2 separate regions of the Homo sapiens genome follow, and region 1 is linked to region 2. The links come from fine-mapping of genetic effects on gene expression. A gene starts in region 2. The other region holds a variant in brackets. All regions are shown on one strand. Distances are from middle to middle.

Region 1 (16,160 bases), 23 kb before region 2:
TTATAATTAAAGTATCTCATGGGAACCATATTGACATTATGCCAATATACTCATCAAATTTTCAACTTACTCTTTCTAAAAATATTTTATTTTGGAGACAGGGTTTCATTCTGTCGCCCAAGCTGCAGTGCAGTGGAGCAATCCCAGCTCACTGCAGCCTTAACCTTCTGGGCCCAAGCGATCCTCCCACCTCAGCCTCCTAAAGTAGCTGAGACCACAGGCATGCACCACCATGCCCGGCTAATTTTTTAAAATTTTTGTAGAGACGGTGTTTTGCCATGTTGCCCAGGCTGGTCTCAAACTCCTGGGCTCATGTGATCTTCCCTCCTCAGCCTCCCGAAGTGCTGGGATTATAGGCATGAACCATGGCACCTGGCCTTTAAAAAAAAAAAACCATTGACACAATGAACTCATGGGTTTCTATTTCATTCAATGGGTTGGTTATATCCATTATTATCATTATTTTGACACTCAATTCATCCCATATTTGGCTAATGGGAATCTCTTCAAAGCTGGCTTTTGTATCCTTTTTGATGTGTTGCTATAATTCTTTAAGAACCTCCCTGCTTTCTGGCACAAGAACATGTTCAAGGCTCATTTGATACTTTCTCTGCCTCACCCCTAAATTCAGCCATTTCTCCAAGGAGGCTTTGTTCCTTTTATCGGAGAAAAGTACTTGGAAACCAAGATATGGGCATTAGGTGTGCTTATTGCTATTGGGATATTACTGCTCTAAGGCCCTCTCAGTTAACTGAATGCCATATATATATATAATATATATTATATATATATTCCAATATATACTAAAAACCATGAGTTCACGTGGGTATCTCCAATTACAATCCAAAACCCAGAGTTCATTCACCTTTTCTCCCTGGTCTTTATCTTTTCTTATCTTATTTTATTTTTCAGACGGAGTCTTGCTTGTTGCCCAGGCTGGAGTGCTATGGCACAATCTTGGCTCACTGCCACCCCCACCTCCTGGGTTCAAGCGATTCTCCTGCCTCAGTCTCCTGAGTAGCTGAGACTACAGGTGCATGCCACCACACCGAGCTAATTTTTCTATTTTTTAGTAGAGACGGGGTTTCGTCATGTTGGCCAGGCTGGTCTTGAACTCATGACCTCAGGTGATCCACCCGCCTTGGCCTCCCAAAGTGTTGGGATTACAGGCATGAGCCACCGCGCCCGGCCTGGTCTACATTTTAGCTACTTTTTCTGATAGTGAGAAATTTGGCTCCTGTTATCCTTAATTGATTTACTTAGTTGATCAATATCTATAAATAACCAATCTTTCATTGCCACCACAGCTCCTCCCTGCCAATAAGGACATTCTTCTCACTGTGCTCAAGCTCAAAAAACCTGCACCTACTGCTGCCACCCCCTGCTATGCCCACTTCACCCCATCTGAACACTAACACCCTATGGCTCTACACTCCCCTTCACCCCTATACAAAAGTCATCCTCAACCCTTTCAGACTCTGACATCTCAAATTATATCCCCCTTCATGTGGATACCCTCCTCACCCCACTTTGGCTCTAGCACCCCATGCTAGGCCACTGCTCCAGTTGGGCTCCAATATACCCTTTCAGGCCACTGCTACTATCCCTTCTTCCCATCTCACTTCCTTTTCTCTTGCTTCTCCCAGGTTTGGACTAAAGTTTTCAGGAAGGGAAGTCAGAAGAAAAGGGAATGATTAAGGATTCAGGAACTAGAGAGAGGAGGGAAGAGAAGAGCAGTATCATTGTATGACACCTCATAATTAGCTATTTTGCTATACAGTGATTATGTTTCTAAAACGTATGCAGAAAATAAGGAATAAACACTAAAGAAAATAATAGGAAAGAAGAAAAGAATATGACACTGAAAAAGAAAAAAATTTCTTAAATGTACTGAATGCTTGTTCTTATTTATTTTACACTTCCAATCATTAAGAGTTGTTATAGACTCTAACAAGGCTATGAACTATGGCCAACCCCCTTTTCCACATTGGAACTGAAAAACCTACACCATATACACAGGGAATTTAAGGTACTTAAGTTTGCAGGTTATACAGAGTGGTAACAGCAATAGAGCAATTTCTACAATTCCTACAACCCAAACTGTGAAATCAATAATGGTGAAAGTTACAGAGGGGTATGCAAAATATACCTTTAATAGCAAAATATTTCCCAGGTCTGAATCTCATGAAATGAAAGATGGGCATAAAAGGGGATTCTCTCTGCTGCTTTATAAGACAATTCGGGGAGATTGAGCAATCAGTTGCTACTTGATACCAAGCAGTAACCAGCTCTATGACACATCCTTATGTTGCCTTACCCTCCTTCCCTGTCTCATTTCATTTTCTCTCACTCTTGCTTCCCTGGGATCATATTCTTTAATAACACAATAGCACATTAAAAAGCATTTCCCAGTCTAATGCAAGCAGAAAAATCCCTTAATACAATGCATTCTATGGCACAAACAACACTGAGTTTTGTGACTTGATAAGGACCAAGGATTCCAGATTGGAAAGGAAGATAAAAGTTTATCTCTATTTGAGTAATAAATTCATTCCACAAGGGTGTTGGCCAGGCTGGTCTCAAACTCCTGATCTCAGGTGATCTGCCTGCCTTGGCCTCACAAAGTGCTGGGATTACAGGCGTGAACCACTACACCCGGCCTTATGTGATTTTATCTAAGGGACTTAAGCATCCTCAGGTCCTAGGGGGTTGTGAAACCAAAACCCCACGGATAGCAAGGGACAACTGTATCTTCAAATTAGACAAATGGCGCCGGGCACAGTGGCTCACACCTGTAATCCCAGCACTTTCGGAGGCTGAGGCAAGCGGATCACCTGAGGTCAGCAGTTGGAGACCAGCCTGGCCAACAGGCTGAAACCCTGTCTTTGCAGAAATGAAGGGATAGCTGGGTGTGGTGGCGCATGCCTGTGGTACCACCTACTCGACCGACTGAGGCTGGAGAGTCGCTTGAACCTGGGAGGTGGAGGATGCAGTGGGCCAGGATGGCGCCACCACACTCCACCCTGGGTGATAGAGTGAGACTCCGTCTCAGAAACAAAACAAAACAAAAATTAGACAAATGCTACATTAATGTTTGGGTGGTCAGATTCTACTTTGAAGTCTGAAGTTTGCAGATATGCCTATAGATTTTTGGAGTTTACCACTTTCCTATTCTGTATCATTAATGTAATATCTTAAATTACTATATATTTGACCATTTTTCTGTATTTAGTAAGAAATTTGCATTTCTGATTTGATATAACAAAAGTTTTAATGTAATTTATATTAGATTTTGCATTTTTTATCACTGTTATACTTTAACGTAAATGACTGATTTAATTGTATTAGTATTGTGAACAATCATGTGGAATGTTTTGAGACAGAGTACTCTATTGGTGAATATAATTTTATGGCTTTTTTCACTTAGTAAGAACCTTTCTATCAGTGTGGAAAACTAAGAAAACTGCTCTCTGCTGTATAATCTGGCATTCATTGTAGATTAAAGCTTATTTTTCTGTGAATAAAACATTCAATAAGATACTATTTAAAATTAAAATAAATAAATAAATGAATGAATTCCACAAGGTTAGGGGTACAAGATCAACATACAAAAATCAGTTATATTTCTATCTATATACACTAGCAACAAACAATTAAAAAATGAAATAAAGGAAACAATTCCATTTATGATAGCATGAAAAAGAAAAAAATATCTTAGGAGTAAATCCAACCAAGGAAAATAAGTCATTCTACCAAAAAGACACATACGTGTACCTGTATATTCATTACAGCACTATTCAAATTAGCAAAAACATAGAATCAGCTCAGGTGCCCACCAACAGTGGGTTGAATAAAGAAAATGAGGTACATCCCATGGTACATATACACCATGGAATACTACACAGCCATGTACTTCACAAAAACATGGATGCACCTGGAAACCATTATGCTATGTTAATTAATGCAGAAACAGAAATTCAAAGACTAAATGTTCTCACTTACAAGAAGGTGCTAAACACTGGGCATATGTGGTTGTAAAAATGGGAACAACAGACACTGATGAATACAACATAGGGAAGGGAGAGGGTTAGGGTTGAAAAAAAATACCTATTGGGTACTATGCTCACTACCTGGGTAACAGATTCATTCGTACGTACTCCAAACTTCAGCACCGTGAAATATTCCTTTGTAGCAAACCTGCACATGTGCCCCCCCAATTCTAAAATAAAAGTTGAAAAAAGATAAAACTTCAACAAAACATTGTTGAAAGAAATTAAGATCCAATAAATGGGGAGACATCCCATGTTCATGGATCAGAAGATGAGATGTTGTTATGATGGCATGGTAAACAGAATAATGCCCCTCACCAAATATGTCCACACCCTAACATCCAGAACCTGACAAAAGGGACTTTACAGATGTGATTAAGATTCTTCAGATGTAGCAATTATCCTGGATTATCTGAGTGGGTTCAATGTAATCACATAGTCCTTATAAGAGGGAGGCAAGAGGCTTAAAGTCAGAGACAGGAAATGTGACAATGGAAGCAGAGGTTAAAATGATATGGTATAGGGAGGAGCCAAGATGGCCGAATAGGAACAGCTCTGGTCTACAGCTCCCAGTGTGAGCGACACAGAAGACGGGTGATTTCTGCATTTCCATCTGAGGTACCGGGTTCATCTCACTAGGGAGTGCCAGATAGTGGGCACAGGACAGTGGGTGCAGCGCACTGTGCGCCAGCCGAAGCAGGGCGAGGCACTGACTCACTCGGGAAGCCCAAGGGATCAGGGAGTTCCCTTTCCTGGTCAAGGACAGGGGTGACAGACGGCACCTGGAAAATCGGGCCACTCCCACCCGAATACTGCGCTTTTCCGACGGGCTTAGGAAACGGCACACCAGGAGATTATATCCTGCACCTGGCTCGGAGGGTCCTACCCACGGAGTCTCACTGATTGCTAGCACAGCAGTCTGAGATCAAACTGCAAGGCAGCAGCGAGGCTGGGGGAGGGGCGCCTGCCATTGCCCAGGCTTGCTTAGGTAAACAAAGCAGCCGGGAAGCTCCAACTGGGTGGAGCCCACCACAGCTCAAGGAGGCCTGCCTGCCTCTGTAGGCTCCACCTCTGGGGGCAGGGCACAGACAAACAAAAAGACAGCAGTAACCTCTGCAGACTTAAATGTCCCTGTCTGACAGCTTTAAGGAGAGCAGTGGTTCTCCCAGCACGCAGCTGGAGATCTGAGAACGGGCAGACTGCCTCCTCAAGTGGGTCCCTGATCCCTGACCCCCGAGCAGCCTAACTGGGAGGCACCCCCCAGTAGGGGCAGACTGACACCTCACACGGCTGGGTACTCCCCTGAGACAAAGCTTCCAGAGGAACGATCAGACAGCAGCATTCACGGATCACGAAAATCTGCGGTTCTGCAGACACCGCTGCTGATACCCAGGCAAACAGGGTCTGGAGTGGACCTCTAGCAAACTCCAACAGACCTGCAGCTGAGGGTCCTGTCTGTTAGAAGGAAAACTAACAAACAGAAAGGACATCCACACCAAAAACCCATCTGTACATCACCATCATCAAAGACCAAAAGTACATAAAACCACAAAGATGGGGGAAAAACAGAGCAGAAAAACTGGAAACTCTAAAAAGCAGAGCGCCTCTCCTCCTCCAAAGGAACACAGCTCCTCACCAGCAACAGAACAAAGCTGGACGGAGAATGACTTTGACGAGTTGAGAAAAGAAGGCTTCAGATGATCAAACTACTCCGAGCTAAAGGAGGAAATTCAAACCAAAGGCAAAGAAGTTGAAAACCTTGAAAAAAATTTAGACGAATGAATAACTAGAATAACCAATACAGAGAAGTGCTTAAAGGAGCTGATGGAGCTGAAAGCCAAGGCTCAAGAACTACGTGAAGAATGCAGAAGCCTCAGGAGCCGATGCGATCAACTGGAAGAAAGGGTATCAGTGATGGAAGATGAAATGAATGAAATGAAGCGAGAAGGGAAGTTTAGAGAAAAAAGAATAAAAAGAAACAAACAAAGCCTCCAAGAAATATGGGACTATGTGAAAAGACCAAATCTGCATCTGATTGGTATACCTGAAAGGGACAGGGAGAATGGAACCAAGTTGGAAAACACTGTGCAGGATATTATCCAGAACTTCCCCAATCTAGCAAGGCAGGCCAACATTCAGATTCTGGAAATACAGAGAACGCCACAAAGATACTCCTCGAGAAGAGCAACTCCAAGACACATAATTGTCAGATTCACCAAAGTTGAAATGAAGGAAAAAATGTTGAGGGCAGCCAGAGAGAAAGGTCAGGTTACCCACAAAGGGAAGCCCATCAGACTAACAGCTGATTTCTCTGCAGAAACTCTACAAGCCAGAAGAGAGTGGGGGCCAATATTCAACATTCTTAAAGAAAAGAATTTTCAACCCAGAATTTCACATCCAGCCAAACTAAGCTTCATAAGTGAAGGACAAATAAAATACTTTACAGACAAGCAAATGCTGAGAGATTTTGTCACCACCAGGCCTGCCCTACAAGAGCTCCTGAAGGAAGCACTAAACATGGAAAGGCACAACTGGTACCAGCCGCTGCAAAAACATGCCAAAATGTAAAGACCATCGAG[A/G]CTAGGAAGAAGCTGCATCAACTAATGAGCAAAATAACCAGCTAACATCATAATGACAGGATCAAATTCACACATAACAATATTAACTTTAAATGTAAATGGACTAAATGCTCCAATTAAAAGACACAGACTGGGCCGGGCGCGGTGGCTCACGCCTGTAATCCCAGCACTTTGGGAGGCCGAGGCGGGCGGATCACGAGGTCAGGAGATCGAGACCACGGTGAAACCCCGTCTCTACTAAAAATACAAAAAATTAGCCGGGCGCAGTGGCTGGCGCCTGTAGTCCCAGCTACTCGGGAGGCTGAGGCAGGAGAATGGCGTGAACCCAGAAGGCGGAGCTTGCAGTGAGCGGAGATCGCGCCACAGCACTCCCGCCTGGGCGACAGAACGAGACTCCGTCTCAAAAAAACAAACAAACAAACAAACAAACAAACAAAAAGACACAGACTGGCAAATTGGATAAAGAGTCAAGACCCATCAGTGTGCTGTATTCAGGAAACCCATCTCACGTGCAGAGACACACATAGGCTCAAAATAAAAGGATGGAGGAAGATCTGCCAAGCAAATGGAAAACAAAAAAAGGCAGGGGTTGCAATCCTAGTCTCGGATAAAACAGACTTTAAACCAACAAAGATCAAAAGAGACAAAGAAGTCCATTACATAATGGTAAAGGGATCAATTCAACAAGAAGAGCTAACTATCCTAAATATATATGCACCCAATACAGGAGCACCCAGATTCATAAAGCAAGTCCTGAGTGACCTACAAAGAGACTTAGACTCCCACACAATAATAAGGGAGACTTTAACACCCCACTGTCAACATTAGACAGATCAACAAGACAGAAAGTTAACAAGGATACCCAGGAATTGAACTCAGCTCTGCACCAAGCAGACCTAATAGACATCTACAGAACTCTCCACCCCAAATCAACAGAATATACATTTTTTTCAGCACCACACCACACCTATTCCAAAATTGACCACATAGTTGGAAGTAAAGCTCTCCTCAGCAAATGTAAAAGAACAGAAATTATAACAAACTGTCTCTCAGACCACAGTGCAATCAAACTAGAACTCAGGATTAAGAAACTCACTCAAGTCCGCTCAACTACATGGAAACTGAACAACCTGCTCCTGAATGACTACTGGGTACATAACGAAATGAAGGCAGAAATAAAGATGTTCTTTGAAACCAACGAGAACAAAGACACAACATACCAGAATCTCTGGGACACATTCAAAGCAGTGTGTAGAGGGAAATTTATAGCACTAAATGCCCACAAGAGAAAGCAGGAAAGATCCAAAATTGACACCCTAACATCACAATTAAAAGAACTAGAAAAGCAAGAGCAAACACATTCAAAAACTAGCAGAAGGCAAGAAATAACTAAAATCAGAGCAGACCTGAAGGAAATAGAGACCAAAAAAACCCTTCAAAAAATTAATGAATCCAGGAGCTGGTTTTTTGAAAGGATCAACAAAATTGATACACCGCTAGCAAGACTAATAAAGAAAAAAAGAGAGAAGAATCAAATAGGCACAATAAAAAATGATAAAGGGGATATCATCACCGATCCCACAGAAATACAACCTACCATCAGAGAATACTACAAACACCTCTATGCAAATAAACTAGAAAATCTAGAAGAAATGGATAAATTCCTGGAAACATATACTCTCCCAAGACTAAACCAGGAAGAAGTTGAATCTCTGAATAGACCAATAACAGGAGCTGAAATTGTGGCAATAATCAATAGCTTACCAACCAAAAAGAGTCCAGGACCAGATGGATTCACAGCTGAATTCTACCAGAGGTACAAGGATAAACTGGTACCATTCCTTCTGAAACTATTCCAATCAATAGAAAAAGAGGGAATCCTCCCTAACTCATTTTATGAGGCCAGCATCATCCTGATACCAAAGCCGGGCAGAGACACAACCAAAAAAGAAATTTTAGACCAATATCCTTGATGAACATTGATGCAAAAATCCTCAATAAAATACTGGCAAACCGAATCCAGCAGCACATCAAAAAGCTTATCCACCATGATCAAGTGGGCTTCATCCCTGGGATGCAAGGCTGGTTCAATATACACAAATCAATAAATGTAATCCAGCATATAAACAGAACCAAAGATAAAAACCACATGATTATCTCAACAGATGCAGAAAAGGCCTTTGACAAAATTCAACAACCCTTCATGCTAAAAACTCTCAATAAATTAGGTATTGATGGGATGTATCTCAAAATAATAAGAGCTATCTATGACAAACCCACAGCCAATATCATACTGAATGGGCAAAAACTGGAAGCATTCCCTTTGAAAACTGGCACAAGACAGGGATGCCCTCTCTCACCACTCCTATTCAACACAGTGCTGGAAGTTCTGGCCAGGGCAATTAGGCAGGAGAAGGAAATAAAGGGTATTCAATTAGGAAAAGAGGAAGTCAAATTGTCCCTGTTTGCAGATGTCATGATTGTATATCTAGGAAACCCCATTGTCTCAGCCCAAAATCTCCTTAAGCTGATAAGCAACTCCAGCAAAGTCTCAGGATACAAAATCAATGTACAAAAATCACAAGCATTCTTACACACCAATAACAGACAAACAGAGAGCCAAATCATGAGTGAACTCCCATTCACAATTGCTTCAAAGAGAATAAAATACTTAGGTATCCAACTTACAAGGGATGTGAAGGACTTCTTCAAGGAGAACTACCAACCACTGCTCAATGAAATAAAAGAGGATACAAACAAATGGAAGAACATTCCATGCTCATGGGTAGGAAGAATCAATATCATGAAAATGGCCATACTGCCCAAGGTAATTTATAGATTCAATGCCATCCCCATCAAGCTACCAATGACTTTCTTCACAGAATTGGAAAAAACTACTTTAAAGTTCATATGGAACCAAAAAAGAGCCCTCATTGCCAAGTCAATCCTAAGCCAAAAGAACAAAGCTGGAGGCATCATGCTACCTGACTTCAAACTATACTACAAGGCTACAGTAACCAAAACAGAATGGTACTGGTACCAAAACAGAGATATAGATCAATGGAACAGAACAGAGGCCTCAGAAATAACGCCGCATATCTACAACTATCTGATCTTTGACAAACCTGAGAAAAACAAGCAATGGGGAAAGGATTCCCTATTTAATAAACGATGCTGGGAAAACTGGCTAGCCATATGTAGAAAGCTGAAACTGGATCCCTTCCTTACACCTTATACAAAAATTAATTCAAGATGGATTAAAGACTTAAATGTTAGACCTAAAACCATAAAAACCCTAGAAGAAAACCTAGGCATTACCATTCAGGACATAGGCATGGGCAAGGACTTCATGTCTAAAACACCAAAAGCAATGGCAACAAAAGCCAAAATTGACAAATGGGATCTAATTAAACGAAAGAGCTTCTGCACAGCAAAAGAAACTACGATCAGAGTGAACAGGCAACCTACAGAATGGGAGAAAATTTTTGCAACCTACTCATCTGACAAAGGGCTAATATCCAGAATCTACAAAGAACTCAAACAAATTTACAAGAAAAAAAACAAACAACCCCATCAAAAAGTGGGCAAAGGATATGAACAGACACTTCTCAAAAGAAGACATTTATGCAGCCAAAAAACACATGAAAAAATGCTCATCATCACTGGCCATCAGAGAAATGCAAATCAAAACCACAATGAGATACCATCTCACACCAGTTAGAATGGTGATCATTAGAAGTCAGGAAACAACGGGTGCTGGAGAGGATGTGGAGAAATAGGAACACTTTTACACTGTTGGTGGGACTGTAAACTAGTTCAACCATTGTGGAAGACAGTGCGGCAATTCCTCAGGGATCTAGAACTATCAATACCATTTGACCCAGCCATCCCATTACTGGGTATATACCCAAAGGATTGTAAATCATGCTGCTATAAAGACACATGCACACGTATGTTTATTGCGGCATTATTCACAATAGCAAACACTTGGAACCAACCCAAATGTCCAACAATGATAGACTGGATTAAGAAAATGTGGCACATATACACCATGGAATACTATGCAGCCATAAAAAATGATGAGTTCATGTCCTTTGTAGGGACATGGATGAAATTGGAAATCATCATTCTCAGTAAACTATCACAAGGACAAAAAACCAAACACCGCATGTTCTCACTCATAGATGGGAATTGAACAATGAGAACACATGGACACAGGAAGGGGAACATCACACTCTGGGGACTGTTGTGCAGTGGGGGGAGGGGGGAGGGAGAGCATTAGGAGATATACCTAATGCTAAATGACGAGTTAATGGGTGCAGCACACCAGCATGGCACATGTATACATATGTAACTAACCTGCACATTGTGCACATGTACCCTAAAACTTAAAGTATAATAATAATAAAAAAAGAAAAAATAATAATAAAATCCCTTGAACCTCAGGAAAAAAAAAAATGATACGGTATAAAAAAGGAAGAGGCTGTGAGCCACAGAATGCAGATAGCTTCTAGAAATTGGAAAAAGACATGGAAAGAGATTCTTTCCAAGAAAAGCCTCTAGATGGAATACAGCTCTGCCAACAACTTGGTTTTATTTATTTATTTATTTATTTATTTTTTGAGACAGTGTCTCGCTCTGTCACCGAGGCTAGAGTGCAGTGGCATGATCTCGGCTCACTGCAACCTCTGCCTCCCGGGTGCTTCTGCCACCAAGTAGCTGGGATTACAGGCGTGCACCACCATGCCTGGCTAAATTTTTGTATTTTTAGTCAAGACCGGGTTTTGCCATGTTGGCCAGGCTGGTCTCGAACTCCTGGCTTCAAGTGATCTACCTGCCCTAGTCCTCCCAAAGTGTTGGGATTACAGATGTGAGCCATCATACCTGCCCTCAATAACTTGATTTTAGCCCAGAAAACCCCCAGACCTGTAAAATATTAAATATGTGTTGTTTTAAACCACTAAGTTCATGGTAATTTGTTACAGTAGTAGTTTCCTTATAGAACACTAATAGAGATGCCAAAACTTCCAAACTGATCTACGGATTCGATACAATCGCTTTCAAAATCCCAACTAGATTTTTTTTTGCAAAAAATAAACTGATACTAAAATTCATAGGGAAACTCAAGGGAATGAGAATAGCCAAAACAATCTTGAAAAAGAAGAATAAAGTTGGAGGACTCACACTTTGCAATTTCAAAACTTACTAGAGCAAGAGTAATAAAGACAATGTGATACTAACATAAGGATAGACATAAAGATCAATGGAATAGAATTGAGAGTCCTGAAATAAACTCATTTATGGTTAACTGGCTTTCAACAGCATGTCAAGATCATTCAATGGAGAAAGACTAGTCATTTCACCAAATAATGCTGGAAAAAATGGATATCCATATTAAAAAAAAGTTGAAGCCCCTTCTGACATCACAAAAGTCAACTCAAAATGAAACATAAAACAAAATATAAGAGCTAAAACTAGAAAACACTTAGAAGAAAACATGGTAGTAAATCTTCTTGATCTTGGGTTAGGCAATGGTTTCTTAGCTATACTATCAAAAGAAAGAAAGAAAGAAAAAAGCAACCGAGAAAAAAAATAAATTGTACTTCATCAAAATTTAACACTTTTGTGCTTCAAAGGACACTATCAAGAGAGTTAAGACACCTCACAAAATGGGAAAATATATTTGCAAATCACATATCTGATAACGGACTAGTATCTAGAATGAATAAGGAACTGTCACAACTTAAGAATAAAAAAATCCAATTTAAAAATGGGCAAAGGATCTGAATAAACATTTTTTTCCAAAGAAGTTATACAAATGACCAATACACACATGAAAAGATCTCAACATCATTAGTCACCAGAGAAATGCAAATCCAAACCAACCACAATGAGATACTACTTCCGGGCCTCCACCAGGATGGAAATAATAAATAAGATAGATAATAACAAGTATTGGCAAAGATGTGGAGAAATCAGAACACTCATACATTGATAGTAGAATTATAAAATGATGCACTTTGGAAAATAGTTTGGCAGTTCCTCAAAATGTTATACATAGTTACTGCATGATCCAACAATTCTACTCTTAGATGTATACCCAAGAGAAATGAAAACACGTATCCACACAAAAGCTTGTATGCAAATATTCACAGCAGCATTATTCACAATAACCAAAAGGAAAACAACCCAAACATGCAACAACCAATTAATGGATAAACAAAATGTGGTATATCCATACAATGTAATATTATTCACCATTAAAAAGGAATAAAGTACAGATATATGTTACACATTTATGGACCTTTAAAACATTATGCTAAGTGAAAGAAGCCAGTCACAAAAGACTACATATTCTTACTCAATTTATATAAAATGGCTAGAATAAGCAAATCCATAGAGACAGAAAGTAGACTGGTAATTGCTTAGGACTATATGGGATTGGATTGGGGAGTGACAGCTAAAGGATGCAAGGTTCTTCTGAGGTGAGGAAAATCTTCTAAAATTGACTGTGGTGAAGGCAGCCCCTACCTGTGAATATAGTAAAAGCCACTGAATTGTACACTTTAAATGGATGAGTTATACAGTACATGAAGTATATCTCACTAAAGATATTAGGTGGGGAAAACCTGCTGTAAGGTCCCCTCATTCCAGACTACAAAGTCTTCAGGGACACTGCTGGAGACTGGTTTTCAAGGCCTCATTAGGCAGCCTAGACGTCAAAACAGAGAGAAGATAGCCTCCCTAATAAAAACAAAACAAACAAAAACCCTAGCAAGGCTAACCTGTTTTGATGGTGTGCTAGACAGCATATTTATCACACAGATATATAACTGAGGAAAGTTAAAATCCAACTCCTTTTCAATTCTAATCTCCAAGGGAATAGATAAAAGGGAATAGGTACTGAAAAACCATTCACTACTAAATAAAGTTCTAAATAAAACTACACTAACATACTGGATAACATTCTGGTTGAGTGACTTCTTTTGTTGCTAATTACCTTGATGCTATATTAGTAATATTTGCAAGGGACCGGGCACGGTGGCTCACGCCTGTAATCCCAGAAATTTTGAGAGGTTGAGGTGGGCAGATCACCTGAGGTCAGGAGTTCAAGACCAGCCTGACCAACATGGAAAAACTCTGTCTCTACTAATAATACAAAAATTAGCCAGGGATGGTAGTGCACACCTACAATCCCAGCTACTTGGGAGGCTGAGGCAGGAGAATCACTTCAACCCGGGAGGCAGAGGCTGCATTGAGCTGAGATCATGCCACTGCACTCTAGCCTGGTCAACAGACAGAGACTCTGTCTCAAAGAAAATAATAATAATAATAATAATAATATTTGCAAGGGACAACACACAAAGTAATAATCTGAAAACTTTTGCAATTAGTACTTTAATAATATATCAAAGAACCATTAATAAAGCATATTCAACAATACTATATTTGATCTTTAAAACCTACATAATAGGCCAGGCTGGTGACTCACACCTGCAATCCCAGCACTTTGGGAGGCCGAGGTAGGTGGATCACTTGAGCCCAGGAGTTCAGGACCAGTGGGGCAACATGGCAAAACCTTATCTCTACAAAAAACACAAAAAGTTAGCCAGGCATGGCGGCGTGCACCTGCAGTCCCAGCCACTCGGGAGGCTGAGGTGAGGGAATTACCTGAGCCTAGAAGGTAGGGGCTGCAGTAAGCCATGATCTTGTCGCTGCATTCCAGCCTGGGTGACAGAGCTGGATTTCGTCTCAAAAAACAAAACAAAACAAAAACAACCTACATAATTACCTGATTTTAATGTCACATTATGTGCTATCTCAGCAACAGATGGTGTTTACAAAATAAAGCAGATTTATCAACACAAAGTAAAGTAACATCAGGGAGTAGAGGACATTTAGCATCTAATTTACCACTGGGGCATCTCTTGATACTTCCCAGCCCAATGTTGACAGTAAATGAACAAACGCAGTGGGCAAGGCCTGAGAAACGTCACAGTAACTAGGCTCAGGCTTTTCTGTAAAACAGTTGCTGGGTACAGTGGCTCACACCTGTAATCCCAGCACTATGGGAGGCTGAAGCAGGCAGACTGCTTGAACTCAGGAGTTCAAGACCAGCTTGGGCAACATGGAAAAACCCTGTCTCCACAGAAAAAATATAAAAATTAGCCAAATTAGCCAGGCATAGTGGTGCGTGCCTATAGTCCCAGCTACTCGGGAGGCTGAAGTAGGAGGATCACCTGGGCCAGGAAGCTGGAGATTGCAGTGAGCTGAGATCATACCACTGTATTCCAGCCTGGGTGACAGAGCCAGACCCTGTCTCAAAAAAAAACAGTCACCACCCATTCCCAGGTAAACCACTTAGACCACCAGAGATTCTGGCTAAGAATCCATAATGGAGATTAGAGGAGCGGGACAAGATCAGCTGTGTTCTGGGGACTACTTTCAGTGACAGAAGTTGTGATTTGCCTCCTAATTTTACTCTTGTAAGCATCCCCAAAAAAAGAGACCAAACAATCCTGGAGGAGCGGTTCCCTTATAGGGTGAATTTACTCTACGAAATGAATCCAAGAGTCAGAGGAAATGTAGCGCTCGGATCCTTCCGTCAGGACCAAGGCATTTATTCCTCTAACTGCCAGGAGAGTTGGCTGCTGAGAGGTTACAGCTATGTCCTCCTCCATGAGCTGCCCTCAACCAAAGTATCACAGATTGAGTTCTCTGAAAGGAAACACCAAGATAGAATGAGAAATGCAACACACTTACTAGGGATCAACATCTGTGAAAGAACGGCAACAGAAGCAGGACTGGGAAGAGGAAGAAATCAAACTGCAATGCAGGCCTGATAAAAGCTCAGCCAACCAGATTTGGCTCTCTGGAGCAGGTATTGCCTGTCGGAGAGTTCCATGTTCGACTGAAATAGCTGGAATTTTTTTTTTTTTTTTTTTTTTTTTTTTTTTTTTTTTGAGACGGAGTCTCGCTCTTTCGCCCAGGCCGGAGTGCAGTGGCGCTATCTCCTCTCACTGCAAGCTGCGCCTCCCAGGTTCACGCCATTCTCCTGCCTCAGCCTCCCGAGTAGCTGGGACTACAGACGCCCGCCACCGCGCCCGGCTAATTTTTTGTATTTTTAGTAGAGACCTCGTGATCCGCCCGCTCCTTATCCTGACCTCGTGATCCGCCCGCCTCGGCCTCCCAAAGTGCTGGGATTACAGGCGTGAGCCACCGCGCCCGGCCGAAATAGCTGGAGCTTTACGCTCCTACCTTGCTCAGTCATTTGCAGGCTGCCCTTAGAAAAGTATGACCTCAGATGAAGCAGATCTCTGCTGCTGAGACAGCCCGTGAATCAGCTGACAGTTGGAAGCTGTCTGATGAAAGCACTTCCGGCAGCTGGGCAGCAAGTAGTTCCCTGAAGAGAAACAGTGTAGTTCACCTTCATCTCTACCACATAAAGAAAAATACCCCACCCAGGGTTATGCCTCTTCTCCCTCAGGTCAGCCAGCCCACATCTATTTCCAGATAATTCTCAAGTGCCATC
Region 2 (16,160 bases):
CAATAATGTAAAGAAGACTGCATTGACATGGTTGAATTCCTAGGACCTTCATTTCTTTAGGGATGTGCTAAGTGGCTTGTATCATTGCTTACAAAAGTTCTTGAACTTGATGGAGTTTATGTTGAGAAATAAAGTTTATACTTTTAATTTTTATCCTTTAATTCCATTTTTCCATGAGCTTTTGAAATCCCCTTATACACTTTCATTTATCTCAGGTAAATACCTAAGAGTAGGATTGCTGAATCTTTTGCTTAAGTATATGATTAGCTATAAAGGACATTGTTTTCCAATGTAGCTGCACCATTTTGCATTCATGCCATACATTACATACCAGCAATGTATGAGAGTTCCAGTTACTCCATATACTTGTCAGCATTTGGTACAGTCTTTTTTTTTTCTTTAACCATTTTAGTGTGTGTGTAATGTAGGTATTTCCTTGAATTTTAATTTGTATTTCTCTAAGGACTAAAGTATACAAAGTATGCAAACAACTGCTGTTAAGGCAAGAAAACCACTAGGCAGAAGGGTACTTCAGCTTTTGCTTCAATAGTCTTTTTTTTTTTTTTTTCTTTTTGAGACGGAGTCTCACTCTGTCGCCCAGGCTGGAGTGCAGTGGCACGATCTTGGCTCACTGCAACCTCTGCCTCCCGGCTTCAAGCAATTCTCCTGCCTCAACCTCCTGAGTAGCTGGGACTACAGGCATACGCCACCACACCTGGCTAATATTTTTGTATTTTTAGTAGAGACGTGGTTTCACCATGTTGGCCAGGATGGTCTTGATCTCCTGACCTCATGATCCACCCGCCTCGGCCTACCAAAGTGCTGGGAGTGAGCCACCACGCCTGGCCTCAATAGTCTACTTTTAAATAAGGTAACTATGTTATACTCCCCTAAATACCACATTCATCACTCCATTATAAGGAACAGGCAAATGACCAAAAAACATGTATCCAAGGAACTTTTCAAAAACAGGCTTCAGAAACTCTCAGAGTCAAATATTCACTGTTTATAACTTCCTCCCTACCTAAGGAAGGCAACGTAATGTAGTCCTTAGTTTAGGCTTTGATGCCCAACCTAACTTTGTACTCTAAGATAGGAAAATGCAAAGTACTACAGAAAGACTTCCACCAAAAACAGGTAAACAATTATTTACTGAGCCTTACACGTAATAAGTGACTAAACGTTAATTCAATGACTGAACCAAGAACAAGTTAATAATAAGCTTCAAGGATAATTTTTATCTATGTAATGCTTTAAAAATCAGAAGCATCCAGAAATTGAGCCACAAATGCCAATACATCTTTTAGGCTTCAGTTACATATAAATCAATTAAGAGAGATGTCATACTACACAAATATAAAAAATGATATGACAATGTACTCATTCATTCAATAAACATTTACTGAGCACCAACTTAGGACAAACCACATTATACATCCTAAGGGGGAGAACAATTACACTGAAAACCAAAAATTAATCAGTTGACTATATATGATTACAAAAACTATCGCAGAGTAATTTAGCGTATAATCACATAATACTACAGCTAATATTTAAATAAGTATGATTTTCTTAGTCTACTAGCTCCATGATAGGCTAAAAGTGTCCAAGAAGCATGCTGCCTATGTTAGAAAGAAATAAGCCTATAAATAAACCACAAGGTAAAAAAATTCACATAAAAATTATCTGGAATAAATTATTATCTATTTCTAATATCAAGCACTAATTGTAAACCATAGTAATTTAGGGTTTGGAAACAGACATTAAAACACTGTTCATATGCTTTCAAGGTTATCCATTTCTAAAGCTGAGTTATAAATGGTGTGCATGAAAAAAAACCCACAGTAATCTATTCATTCATATATGTATACCATGAGTGCTATATCACACAGTCATCATTTTTTATCAAGAATGACAATTTTAACCTTTAAATAACCACTTATTTGTCAAAAATATTCCACATGTATTAAGATTAAATAATCATGCAAATTGAATCAAGCAAGTCTAAATAATGCTTACCTAATAAAATTAATGTGGTGATTTCCTAACTTAAGCCATACTTAATGTAATAAAGTTTAAAATTCACATGAAACTCAGATATGCAACAAGAAACAAGTATGAGAAGCTGTTATGGGCTGAATTATGTCACCCCCCAAAAAATATGCTGAAGTCCTAACCCCCAATACCTCAGAACATAACCTCAGTCCCTCATGATGTGACTTTGGGAATAGGGTTGTTGTGTATGTGATTGAGATGAGGTCATACTGGAGTAGGGTGAGCCCCTAATCCAATATGACCGGTGTCCTTATAAGAAGGCCATGTGAAAACAGACACACACAGGGAGAATGCCACGTGACCACAAAATCAGAGATTGGAATTTTGCAGCTCCAAGTCAAAGAATGCCAAAGACAGCCAACAAACCACCAGAAGCTAGCAAGAGGCAACAAAGGATTCCCCTGTAGGTTGCAGAAGGAGCATAGCACTGCCAACACCTTGATTTTGGATTTCTAGCCTCCAGAACTCTGAGACAATACATTTGTGTGGTTTTAAGCCAATCCAGTTTGTGATACTTTGTTACAGCAGCCATAGGAAACTAATACAGCATTTTTACAGTAATATATATGTTTCTCTTGTACATTATATCAATGCATTGATTTTTAAAAATTTTATTTTCTACGGTATCATATAGTAAACTTGACTTTTTTGGTGTATAGTTCCATACATTTTAACACATGTATATATTCATATAACCCTCACCATAATAGATTACTGACAGTTAATGTCTTGTTTTTTAATTGCTATTATTGAAACAAGAGAAATAAAATTGTCTCCCATAGGCATAAATTTCCAGCCTTTTCTATAATATATTTTTAAAATTCCTAAAATAAAGATAACCTCTAAAATAAAATTCACTCTCTTTAGTTTATCCATCATCTTTAAAATCCAAAGCTCTATCCTTGAGAAAGTCACCTTTAGAAAAATTCATTTAAAGCTTTCATTTGAAGAAATTGATAAATCACCATTCGTCACACAAAATAGATGGTTAAACACAGAAGATACACCTAAGTTGTAACACTCATACTACTTAATGCTATCAGTTTATTATATGCACAAATCTGGAGTTTTCCCCATATATTCCAATACCACTCATACTCAAAATTCAGGTCTCTCTCTGTTTTACAACACTGAGAAATCCATTCTTAACGTTCAGTCATTCAACAAGCACTTATTGAACATTAAAATGTGTGCATATGTGATGTGTTAGGGTGGAGGGAGAGAACTCATTGATCAGAAAAAAAAAAGATAATGTGATTTAAAACTTGAAAAATTTCTATGCTAAAAAGCACACCCGCTTAAAGGAATGCAGCTGCCTTCTGTGATGGAATACCTTAAATATCAATAAAGTTATTTTTCTCCACATGAAATTTTATTATAATTTTATTCATTCTAACTCACATATGCCACAGTTTTTTCAATGTAGATATCTTTTGTTCCCCCAAACAATATAGATTAAAACAAATTACATATAAAAATCAACAAACTGTAATACTTGTTACTGATAAATTTCATAAAAGTTATACTACAGAAAAATTTCACAGACCTGTTTATTGATGATATACAAGTGTACACAATTTTAAACTTACTACTTGATGTTTAAGTTATAGATAACTTCCTGAAATGGGCCACTTTTTATATTTCCATTATTGACTTTGTAATTGTACCTCTTCCACATAAGGTAATACTTAGCATTCTGGTTCTAGTCTTGAAGACTTCAAGAACAAATCATGTACTTATTAAAAAATGTGTAGACTAAAACTATGGGGTTTTGTTGAAGTCACCTGTCAAAATCTACTTAAAATTTCTGGATAAATACGTACATAACTAAGATGTACCAGGCGCAGAAGGCCCCTGCATGCCTTTAGCCAATTTTTAAAACTAAATATCCAAGTAAATATAACATTTCTGTGTTTAAGTGAGAAAAACTGTTAATTTTTTTTCCTTCAATCAATTCAGATTTTCCTGAGAAAAAGCAAAGCTTCTTTAAGTTTTACCAAATACAAAGAAATCAATTTAAAATACAGTGGATAGCAAAAGGGTCAAAATGTTAAAACCGTTAGTAAATTATAGGTGTCTTATTCTTATGCCATCTGCAGACTCCTGAATAAGTATTTTCCCAAAGTTTATACTACTACTATATCCATGGGCTTCTGAAACAAGTTAAAAATGCAGATGCTGAAAACATTCATATGTTTTCAATAGAGTTCATACTCTAACCTTTACAATACTGAGATCAGACTGTAAGTCTATTGACATAGCTTTAAACTTACAGACATCCCTGAAGAGACTAATTTGCAATTTTCCCCTTTTAAAAGGAATACTACTTCTGATGCAGTACTTACATAAAAGAAATGTATCCTTTGAGCATAGCTGGAAAAGTTTTAGTTTTGATTTAAAATCTGAAGTATCCAATTTTTAACCAGAATTCATGACTTCCCATTACCAGATTTTGTGTGGAAAGTAATTAGAAATTACAGAATTTAATCTACCTACTCTTTCCACAAGTTTTTGTTTGTTTTTAATTTATTTGCCTTGAAGGCTTTTTTGTTTGTGCTTTCTTTTTTCATTTAAATTCCCTTTTTCATTAAATTCCCTTATGACTCTTTTTCTTAAAAAGATGTTGTCACAGAAATACCCCAACTTTCTGTTCTTCCTAAAGCATCGGCCTTCAGTAACTTCCCAAATCTGAGGTTCTATCGTTTAGAAACAGTAAGGAAATATGTAGAATTCTTAATTAGCATCACTTAGTAATTAATTGAGTTTGAAGTGCAGTTATAAACTGAAAAACACGATTACTATCTTGGTATATACGAATCACTTCCTTACTCATCTCTTGGCAATACTTTTAGAAAGCCTACTCTCTAGATTAAGTCATTTACTTATAACTTTAAGTTTAGGAGATGGGGGATGAGTCTCTATTAAAGGTGGTTCATACCAAAATACAGAACTCAAAAAGATGCAGAACAGGCTATCCTTCTCTCCTATACTTATTAACCTAAATTAAGGTCAGAATAATAAAAATTACACAGCTCGTGGTTCTCAAGTAGCATAAACTTAAAGTGATAAATTTATTCACCGGTCTTCGTCTTTGAAATCCAAAGTCAATCAGAAAACATGTTTGTTTATATGTGTCTTTTCTCAAGTCAATCAGAAAACATGTTTGTTTATATGTGTCTTCTGAAACTACCATAAGAGAGCCTATAACTCCAGAACCACATTAACTTTCATATTATAAAGGGGAAATATCTGATTTAAACATGATCTAGATTACCCAAAATATCCTATTTCATTTGGAAAGTGACACTTTAGTTACTTTAAAAATAGACACCTCTTTAAAACTCTTCCTCTCTTTTATTTGTTCCCTCAAGTTTGAAAATTCTTCCTCATCCATCTCTTACTATAAAATGACCACTTAAATTGATCCTTTTCCATTTAAAATATTTGAAACAAGAATCTTAAAAGTTAAATAAATGATCGAAACTCAGAAAAATTAAAATTTACAGACTAATAGGAAAATGATTGTATTTATTTTCATGTTTTCAGTGTTTCAGTATTAAAGCTGTACACCTTAATTACATATTTATTCAAGTCACTCTTTCAAAAATATACACAAATAAAGGACTAACCTCTTTCAAATAAACAAAACTTGCTCAAGCCACTGTCACTATATTCTGGCACAGGATAAATTTACATTTCACATTTGCAAAACAAGTTGTGGTATGCTGTTGTTTTGGTTAGAAACACAGGAATCAATGATTCTCAATAACCAGAAGCAGATTACTTTATATGAAACAGCACGATTCAAAGAAAAACATTTTTCAAATGTTTTCTCCAGGTTTTACCTGGAGAGCTAGATGTCTGGGGTTTGTGTCTTTCTGTGCTTGTTTAATTCTAAAAACAACCTCCCTTCAACTCCTTTCAAAAATCAGTATTTTCTTCAATTAATACGAGCATATAGTGTACAATAAAACGCATAAAGATATGTACTTCCAGAATGCCATAATAATCCAAATAGAAAAAAATTCGTGTTTTAATTTTCCACATAGCAAAGTCAATGTTAATCATTTTTTTATCCTTCTCCTTAACCATTCCACAAATCAGAAGCACTGTATTTATATATTTAATAAGATTAACAAACTGACTAGAAGCTCCGGAGGAGTAAAGGAAGAAATCATTTGTATAATATATTTTTCCATAACAAAAAGATAAAAGCAAATAGGACTTGTTAAATGAGAAGCTTTTGAAAAACCCAGCGTGACCAGCTTTTGATTTACCCCAGTCTGACAAGGAAGAGAGACCCCACCCCCACTCCAGATTGTATGGCTTTTTTTTTTTTTTTCCTTGGGTGGGGGTGTGGAGGAGAAGCTGTCACATTTCCATCTTCGGTTATTGTTAGTCCGCAGCCTAGATTCCCAAGCATCACCGGTCCAGGGGAAAAATCCTAACGCAGACAATTAAAACTGTCTGAAACATGCAGTATTTTGTTGGGGCTTTTTTCCCAGTGTTAATTTCATCGAGACTCAATCGGCTAGGGCTATAGATTGCCTCTGACAGTCTGTCCCTCAAACGCTCCCTCTAAAACCGCTTGTTCCAGATTTACTAACAATCCTCTCCTCTCCAAACTTAAATTAGGACAACACATTTCTGAAATTATTACATCCAAAAAGTCATACCTCCCCATTCTCTTTGCCTTGGTGTGGGGAATAGAAAGAGTGAAGAAGAGAGATCTATTCACTCTTCAAACAAAAAGAAATTGGGGTAGAGGGTCAGTGGAGGAAAGAGCAGTGGTGGACCTGAGTGAAAGGTTGAAAAAAGTTTTTGTGACTTGTTCGTCCTTCGGCAGGGGTACAGGAGTTGGGCAGAAGGCCGGGGTCTCGGCCCCAGGGCTCGGGCCGAGAAGAGGCACCCGCGGAAGAGGAGGCTGAGGACCCGAGAACGCCTGGACGAGCACATACCGACTTGCAGCACGTTCTCCACGGAGCCGCTGTCCAGCAGACGGATGCCCCGGCGGAACGGGAGCCCCTCGCCACCGCAGCCGGCCGCGCCGGCCCCTGCGCCCAGCCCGGGGGATGCCCCAGCCGCGACGCCCCCGGGGGCGGAGCCGGCCGGAGCGGCGGCCCCGGGGGGTGGCTGCGGCCCCTCCTCGGCCGGCGAAGCCCCCGCGGCGCCGCCAGCAGCGCCGGCGCCGGGGCCGCCCCGGTACTGGAAGCTGGAGTACATGCAGATCTCCCGCTCATTCCGCGGGAAGGACCAGTAGACGATGCGGCGCTGCACGGGCTCCGGGATCCGCTCGAAGCGCTCCTCCACCCGTTCGTATGCCCACTTTTCCGCCACCGTCTTGGCGGCGCAGTCCAGTAAGGAATCCGGCTGCAGGTGGGGGCGGGCCCCGAGGACCAGGCAGCTGCTGCCGACGCCCCCTGCCCCTCCGCCGGCTGCCCCAGGCGAACCGCGAGGGTGATGAGCCTGCGGGCTGGGCCACGAACACTGCCGCTTAGCCGGAGAGACCGGTGACGGCGAGAGCAGCTCCTCTCGCTCACCTCCGTCCGCCATTGCTGGGGACTGACTGACTGACTGAGGCGGCGGCGGCTGCTCGGGCTGCGGCGGAGACCCTGGCCACGGCCACGCGCCCCGCGCAAGCGCCCAGCGGTGGCGCCGAGGGGGGCGGGGCGAGAGAACCCGCGAGCCAGCCGGCCCGAGTGGGGAACCGCGGCCGGGCCCGGGAGCGCGCCGCGAGGGCAGACGCGGGCGGCCTGCAGGGTAGCGTGAGGCGGCGCGCGGTGTCCTGGCCGCCGCGGACGCGAAGACAGGCGGGAGCGAGCGCGGGCCCGCGGCGCGCTCCAGGCGCAAACAGCCTAGAACGCGAGCCGAGCGCTCTCGCGGATCCGGCGACCGCGGAGGGGAGAGGAGCGCCGGACGCTCTCGCACGCCCGCCCGCCCGCCCGCGCACCTCCAACCCACCTGCCGCCGGCCAGACAGGAATGGACTGTGTGACTGAATGAAATGGCGGGGCCATAAGCCATCCAAGGAGCCGCCTCCGTGAAGTTATAGGCTCGCGGGGTACAAGGAGAAAAAAACAATCCAGCTCCAACGGTACTGATGTGACAGGAGGTTGTCACAGCAGAGCGGAAGATCTGGCAGAAAGACGCTGGGAAAGAAGACACTAGGGGAAAACATCAGAAAGTTCGGATGATGAAAACTCACCTCACGCCACAACAATGTAGGATAAAGCCGGCGGTCACCCCACCCCAGAGTGGGACAAAGTCGCACCACCCCTTGACAATGGGGCATCAAGATCTTATCGCCACGGGGGTTGCATCCTGGTGGGGTCTTTTGGAGGGTTTAGCACCTTGCATCCTAGAATACAAAACACTTTTGCGTGTTTTTTGGTAGAATTCTCTGATCCCCTACCTCCAATCTGAATTAGGTCTTTCATGTTTTCCTCACTTGGCTCAGTCTTCTACACCTTTACATAGTTGTATTTTTATATATTTGTTTAATGTCTGACTGTCAACTCCATGAGAGTGAGAATCATGTCTATTTCCTTCACTATAATTTATCCTCTGCCTGGCACATAGTGGGTGCTCAAGAATGGCAGCTTCATCACTAACTCCATAAACAACACGCAATTGTAAGTTACTGTTTCTTGCTCGATCAAGAAAGCTCAGATTATTTCAGAATTTGCTGACAAACTAATCTCTACAACTTTAAAACGTTCCAAGAACTGTATTAAAAGAGTTTCTATAGTTGAGTTTGCCCTTCAAAGTAAGAGAGATTTAGAGTGTAGGATAAAATAAGAGTAAGAAGAGAGTAAATGATTGGAGACAGGCTGGAGCCACAGTTTGGTTTTGCTGTAATCTCAGAATTAAAGAGCACAGGCAGAATTGGGTGTGAATCACACTTGCTGTGTGTGATGCTATTCATGATTCTATTAAATCATTTGCAAAAGGGAGCTAGTAATAATGCTTCTACACATAAATGTTGTAAGAATTAGAAATAATTCACTTTAAAAAAAGTTTTTTTAGAGACAGGATCTCACTCTGATGTCCAGCCCGGAGTGCAGTGGGGTGATCACTGCAACCTCAAACTCTTGGACTCAAACTATCCTTCCATCTCAGCCTCCAGAATAACTAGGACAACAGATGCACAGCACCACACCCAGCTAATTCTAAATTTTTGTAGAGGGGCGGTCTCCCTATGTTGCCCAGGCTGGCTGGAATTAGAAGTAATTCAAATTGTTTGCTTATTCAGTGTAGTAGGTACTCAATAAGTATCTGTTTAGGCCAGATGCAGTGGCGCATGCCTGTAATCCCAAGGCTTTGGGAGGCCAAAGTGGAGGATCCCTTGAGGCCAGGAGTTCTAGACCAGCCTGGGCAACAGAGCAGACTGGAGACCCCATCTCTACACAAGAAATAAAAAATAGCAGGGATTAGTGGCCTACACCCTGTAGTCCTAGCTACCCTGAAGGCTGATGTAGGAGGATTGATTGAGCCCAGGAGTTCAAGGTTACAGTAAGCTATGATCATGCCACTGCACTCTAGCCCAGGCAACAGAGCAAGACCCTCTCTAAAAAAACAAAAAAAGAAAGAAAAAGAAATCTGTTTATATTGGTAAATGGATTTATATCTGTAAATAACTATAAATAGATTACTGCAAAATAGCATAATCCCTACTCCACCTTGAATCTGGTACCACATTTACAGGCTTCCATAACACACACTATTTTCTTTCCTATAATTTATCAGAGTTTTTTGGGAGAACGAATATTCCTTTAATGCCTGTCCCCCTAACTAGACTATGAGCTGTGGAAGGGCAGGAACCATTTCCATGTAAGGGCCTATTTCTACCACCTGCCAAAATGCCTACACATAGAAGATGTTCAGAAAATATTTGCACTTTGAATCAATGAATATGTTATTCTGATTTAATCAGTTACTGTCTTTTTTTTTTTTTTTTTTTTTTTTGAGATGCAGTCTCACTCTGTCACACCCAGGTTGGAGTGCAGTGGCACAATCTTGGCTCACTGCAACTTCCGCCTCCTGGGTTCAAGTGATTCTCTTGCCTCAGCCTCCCAAGTAGCTGGGTCTACAGGCGTGTATGCCACCATGCCCAGCTAATTTTTGTATTTTTAGTAGAGATGGGGTTTTACCACATTGACCAGGCTGGTCTCAAACTCCGGCTTCAAGTGATCTGCCCGCTTCAGCCTCCCAAAGTGCTGGGATTACAAGTGTGAGCCATGGCGCCTAGCCTATATTTATGTGTTTATTTGCTTAATGTCTGTTTCCCAAAATAGACTATAAGCTCCATGTTAGGCGGGCGTGGTGGCTCACACCTGTAATTCCAACACTTTGGGAGGCTGAGGTGGGTGGATCACTTGAGGCCAGGAGTTCGAGACAAGCCTGGTCAACATGGTGAAACTCCACCTCTACCAAAAATACAAAAATTAGCTGGGCATGATGGTGGGCATCTGTAATCCCAGCTACTCGGGAGGCTGAGGCAGGAGAATTGCTTGAACCTAGGAGGCGGAGTTGCACTGAGCCGAGATTATACCACTGCCAGCCTGGGAGACAGAGTGAGACTGTGTCTCAAAAACATAAATAAAAAATAAAAAATAAGCACATAAATATATAAATACAGATGGTAATAACACAGCAAATAAGACATTTGGGAATATGCAATATGTGGTTGTGAATAACAAGAATGCTAGATTAATTGGACCATAAGTTTGTGGTGAGAAATAGTGGGAAAAGACTGCAAGAGAGACAGGAGACATTGTGAAAAGCTTTTAAAAGCATTGTAAAATGCTAACTTGAGGAATCTGCATTTTCTTAGGTTGGTGGAGGGAAGCTAATAAAGGTATTTTGAGCAGGACAGTTATATGATAAAAGGCAGTGTTTTAGGAATATTAACCAGACAGAAATATGTAGGATGAATCAGGAGAAAGATAAAGTCTGGAGGCAAAAGATGAGTTTGGAGATAAACCAACAGTGTGGGAAGGAGGTAATAAAGGCTTGTAGAAGGCATTGGACGAAAAGATATCTAGACATCGGGCAAAAAGGGGCTGAAATCTGGCCTGCACTCCATTTGCCCATCCCTGCACCAACCAGGTTGCATCTGGGTGCCTCTTTCTCATTCTCACCAAGTGACCATATGGGCTAGCAATGGCTCTGGGCCTGTGTTACCTCTCTCTGTTTGATCCCTCTTCTCTGATGAGAGAATTGACATATTTCAAGGAGACTGTGGGAGTCTAAAGATACTTATTTTACAGCATTGCAATCCCCAGGGTGAAAACACAAATACCAAAAATCAATAACCAGGAAGAATACCTCACATCTTAATACAACTCTTTTGATGTCAGGAAAATTTTGATCCAACCTTAGAAATAAATCTTTAAATTTGCATTTGTGAAACATCCTCAACCCCTTTGCATGGAATGAAATGATGAGATGAAGGTGAAGGATAGAGTGAGACTCAGAGATGAGGATTTAGGTATCATTTGACAAGCAAACTGTATGCAACCCAGTCATTTATTTAATAAAATTTATTTTGGCTTCTATTTCAAAATGTAGAAGATAGACACCTGTGCTTCCTGATAACACTTTGTTTGGGTATATCATAAACACTGAATGAAGTGGGAATGAGAAATATTTAGGAATTAGAAAGGAAGATCATGATTTTTTTTTTCTTTTTTTTCAGACAGTGTCTGGCTCTGTTATTCAGGCTGGAGTGCAGTGGTACAATCTTGGCTCACTAAAACCTCTGCTTCCTAGGCTCAAGCGATCCTACCACCTCAGCCTCCCAAGTAGCTGGAACCACAGGCATTCGCCACCACACTTGTAGAGACAAGGTCTTCCTATATTGCCCAGGCTGGTCTCAAACTCCTGGGCTCAAGCAGTCCTCCCATCTTGGCCTCCCAAAGTGCTGGGATTACAGATATGAGCTACCATGCCTGGCTAGAAGACCATGATTTGAATTGATTGGACCTATTACCCAACTCTGGTTTTTTTTTTTTTTTTTTTTTTGATACAGAGTTTCACTCTTGTTGCCCAGGCTGGAGTGCAGTGATGCAATCTCAGCTCACTGCAACCCCCACCCCTTGAGTTCAAGCAATTCTCCTGCCTCAGCCTCCTGAGTAGCTGGGATTACAGGTGCCCGCCACCATGCCTGGCTAATTTTTGTATTTTTAGTAGAGACAGGGTTTCACCATGTTGGCCAGGCTGGTCTTGAACTCCAGACCTTGGGTGATCCACCCACCTCAGCCTCCCAAAGTATTGGGATTACAGGTGTAAGCCACTGTGTCCAGTCAACTGCTATTTTTCTTGTGGTAGACTTCGTGGTTCTCTTCCTTCAGTTATGGAGCAGCCATAAAATTAGAGGACTTTAGCTCCAAGGGTAAGTGCTAACTTGTCTGATCAACTGGCATAATTCCATATCTCATTCTAAAGTGATTCATTCAGGGATAGGCAGAGATAAGTCAATCAGTGTATGGCATTTCCCTGGTCGTAGGGATTGGTTCAGGAATGAGCATAACCTATTGGGCCAATAAGATATGTGGTTTGCTAGCAACTTCCAGGAAAGAAGAAAGTTCTTACTCTTTTAAGAGAGCTTACAAAAGCAATTCTCTTAGTGCCTCGACCCAGAAAAGGAGGTTGTTGGTAGCATGCTGTGAATACAAAGGTAAGCCAGGCTTGGGTTGAAGCTGACATACCAAAAGACTTATGGGAAAGATGAAAAAAAAATGAGATTTCTGATGGCATTGCTAAACAGCTGAATCAAAACCTGAAGCCCTCTATCAACATCCAGTTACATGAACCAATAAATCTCCTTTATTATTTTTTCAATACTTTATTGAGGCGGAATTTTCATGCATTAAAATGCACAAATCGCCGGGGGCGGTGGCTCACACCTGTAATCCCAGCACTTTGGGAGGCCGAGGTGGACAGATCATGAGGTCAGTAGTTCGAGACCAGCCTGGCCAGCATGGTGAAACCCCGTCTCTACTAAAAATACAAAAGTTAGCTGGGCATGGTGGCATGCGCCTGTAATCCCAGCTACTCAGGAGAATCGCTTGAACCCAGGAGGCGGAGGTTATAGTGAGTCGAGATCGTGCCACTGCACTCCAGCCTGGGCGACAGACAGACTCCGTCTCAAAAAAAAAAAAAAAAAAAAAAGCACCAATCTTTTTTTTTTTGAGTACTTTTAATTAAAAGGCACAATTCTCAGGTGTACAGCTTGATGATGTTTTCCCCCTGAGTCTGCTTTCTAGGAAGACTTTTTACAAATGTATACACCCATGAGGTCTTTACATAGAAAAAATGTAGAATGTTTCTGTCATTCCAGAAAAGTCCCTTATGTCCCTTTCAGCTTGATACCCACCTCCCAGAGATACCAATTATTCATTTAAATGGAATAATATGGCATAAATTATTTTATGTCTGGTTTATTATTAAGCATAATAATAATTGAGAGTCACCTATGTTATTCTCATGACAGTTTGTTCTGTTTTTATACTTAGTAGTATTCCACTATATAAATGTACCACATGTTGTCTATTCTCCCTCTAATGGACATTTAGGGTGTGAATTAGTCAAGATGGGATTAGATGTGCAAGAGATTTATTAGACGTTATGCTTAATAGGGAACATGGAGAGGAAGCTAGAAGCTAGGGAAGACTGTAAGAGACATCAGATCTCAATGCAGATGAAAGAGAAAAGAAAGGAAGGAAGGTTGAATGGGGGGGTCTTAGAGTGCAGTATAGTTCTAAGAAAGTTAGGCAAGACCAAATGTGCCCATCAGAGGAGTCCTGCGCCTTCTAGGAATGGACCTGTCTTAGTACTCCTTCTCATTGTACTAAATCACTGGGTGGCAGCAGCCTGTGGAAAGCATTTATCCAGAGGTAAATGCAGGGATAGATTTTGGAGCACAGCAGCTAAAGTGGTCAGTAAAGTATGCCTCCCACAGCCAGAAATCTGAGAAGAGCATTTTCATGGCTGCCACAGTTCACTTCTTTTACCTCACCAATTTACTTCTTCATGCAAATCAGGGAGCAGATCTTCCACAGTTCTCTTCCTGAGGGGAAACTCAGAAGAGGATAGTTAATGGGATGAGCTCTATTCCCTATTGTTACAACTGGTCTTGGGGCCACAACTGGAACTCATCTTTTTCTTCTTCCACTATCCATTCTGAATTCCCCTCACCCTCCGTTATCACCTCAGCGGGTCTTGGAACTTGCTTAGAGATGTGATCCAAACCCTCAGTCCTTAGAGTTCTGAGCTCTCAGCAATCATACCTTTATAGGCCAGGATTATTCCATGTGTCTGTTCACAGTTACATTGGGGCAGGGAGGCAATCAGGAAGATCTCTTCAGTTCTACACGTATTCCTTCCTGCTCACACTGTGTAAGAGGAATACTGCCTCCTGCTTAAGGGTCAATGACTCCTGCCAGTATGCTAACTCCTTTTCTCACCTGCTAGCCCCTGGGCACAAGGAGTCTCTGATGCCCTGGCAGCAGCCGTAAGTTAGGGTGCAATGGATTCGAACCTTTAGTCCTGTAGAACCTAGAGTTGTGGGGACAGGAAGCACAGAATCTCCCAGAAGTTCATTGTAAATGATGATAAATAATGAGGCCACTCTTGTCTCTACTCCTTGGTTTCTCATTTCTGTTGGAGCCACAACACTATATAGAGGTGCCTAATTCATTGCATACTCATCATCTTGAAGGATGCCACCCCATCCCTTCAAAATGTGGTCTCTGAACTAGGCATATCAAATGTGTCTATAGAAGGGCATTTAAGCATTTTATAAGGCTGGTTGCTTCTATGCCTGTAGAAGGTCTTTCCAGCATTTTATGAGGCTGGCTGGATATTGTGTTATATGATATGACTAGGGTATTCAATGGTGATGCCAGATATCTTAATCCATTTTGTGCTGCAATAACAGAATACCACAGACTGGGTAATTTACAAAGAATGTAAGTTTATTCAACACATGATTTGGAGGCTGGTAAGTCCAAGAGCATGGCACCAACATCTAGTGAGGGCCTTTGTGCTGTGTTTTCCCACAATGGAAGAAAGTGAGCCTGTGAGACAGAGGATGGGAGCCAAACATCATCCTTTTATCAGGAACCCACTCCTGTGATAACTAACCTACTCTCATGATAATGACGGCAGGACCCTCATGACCTAATCACCTCTTAAAGGTCCTGACTGTCAATGCTGTTATAATGGCAATTAAATTTCAACATGAGTTTTAGAAGGGACATTCACACTATAGTACCAGATGACTCTCAAACACCTGTTGCTGTGAAGTGGGTTCCCTGGTTGGATGCTATTCCTTGTTGAATTCTATGCCTGTGGATCAGGCATTTCATAAGTCCTTGGGTACTGGGGCTATTTGAGGTCTGTAGGCAGGAAAGGCAAACTCATATGCAGGTATCTCTCCTTTTGAAAACAAACTCTTGACCCTTTTAGAATGAAAGGGACTGGTGTGCTGTGTGATACAGTTGGCCTGTAGCAGGAACAATGCTATATCAGGAGGTTAGTTGTTCATTTTGGTTGCCAACAGGTTGGACATTCAAGGCAGCAATAGCTAGATAAATCTTGATAGATGGGAATGCCTGCTGTTGAGCCTATATGTAATTTCCACTTATGCCACCATGAGTTCTCTGTCATGTCCCCATCATACCAGTCCTGGGGCAGCCAGCTAGTTAGCACCAGGCTAGTTAGCAATACCTGGCCAAGTCATTTTTGTCTGCTTGACTGTTCAATGCCTCTTTCATGTTGGATGCTTTTAGGTGGCCATTAATATGTGACACAAAAATCCTTTCCCTTCCAGGTCCCTGACCAGAGGGCCCAAGCCCTCTGGTCATTGCCTTCTGGTCACTGCCCAGGAATCTATATATATATATTCACCTCTCTAGCCACTTTCACCTGCTCACAAAGCAGCTAGCCAGATGCACTGCTCCCAGCTCTACTCATTTGGAAAAGTTTTCCTTTCCGCCATTTTTCAGGGCCACTGCTGAATATGACTATAATGCCATTACTGTCCATTTTTGGCTTGTATCCACATTCCAAACAGGCCTACCCATAAACCAAGCTCAGGCTTTT

Evidence for each region. PIP is the estimated chance that this variant, and not a neighbour inherited with it, causes the effect.
Region 1: its variant is fine-mapped to the expression of ZSWIM5 in whole blood (TOPMed, PIP above 0.99).

The regions. Positions count from the first base shown.
Region 1 is chr1:45,175,374-45,191,533 of GRCh38, forward strand. All of the region lies in intron 1 of ZSWIM5 (zinc finger SWIM-type containing 5), which reads right to left. Among named protein-coding and RNA genes, the nearest start is that of ZSWIM5, 23 kb to the right of the region's middle. The variant A/G (reference allele first, on the strand shown) is at 6,629.
Region 2 is chr1:45,198,743-45,214,902 of GRCh38, forward strand. It overlaps ZSWIM5 (zinc finger SWIM-type containing 5), which reads right to left and starts at 7,863. Exons shown (of 14, transcript NM_020883.2): 1 at 7,014-7,863. The coding sequence starts at 7,608. RefSeq lists silencers at 5,141-5,341, 7,310-7,469, 7,670-8,089 and enhancers at 6,441-7,341, 7,342-8,241.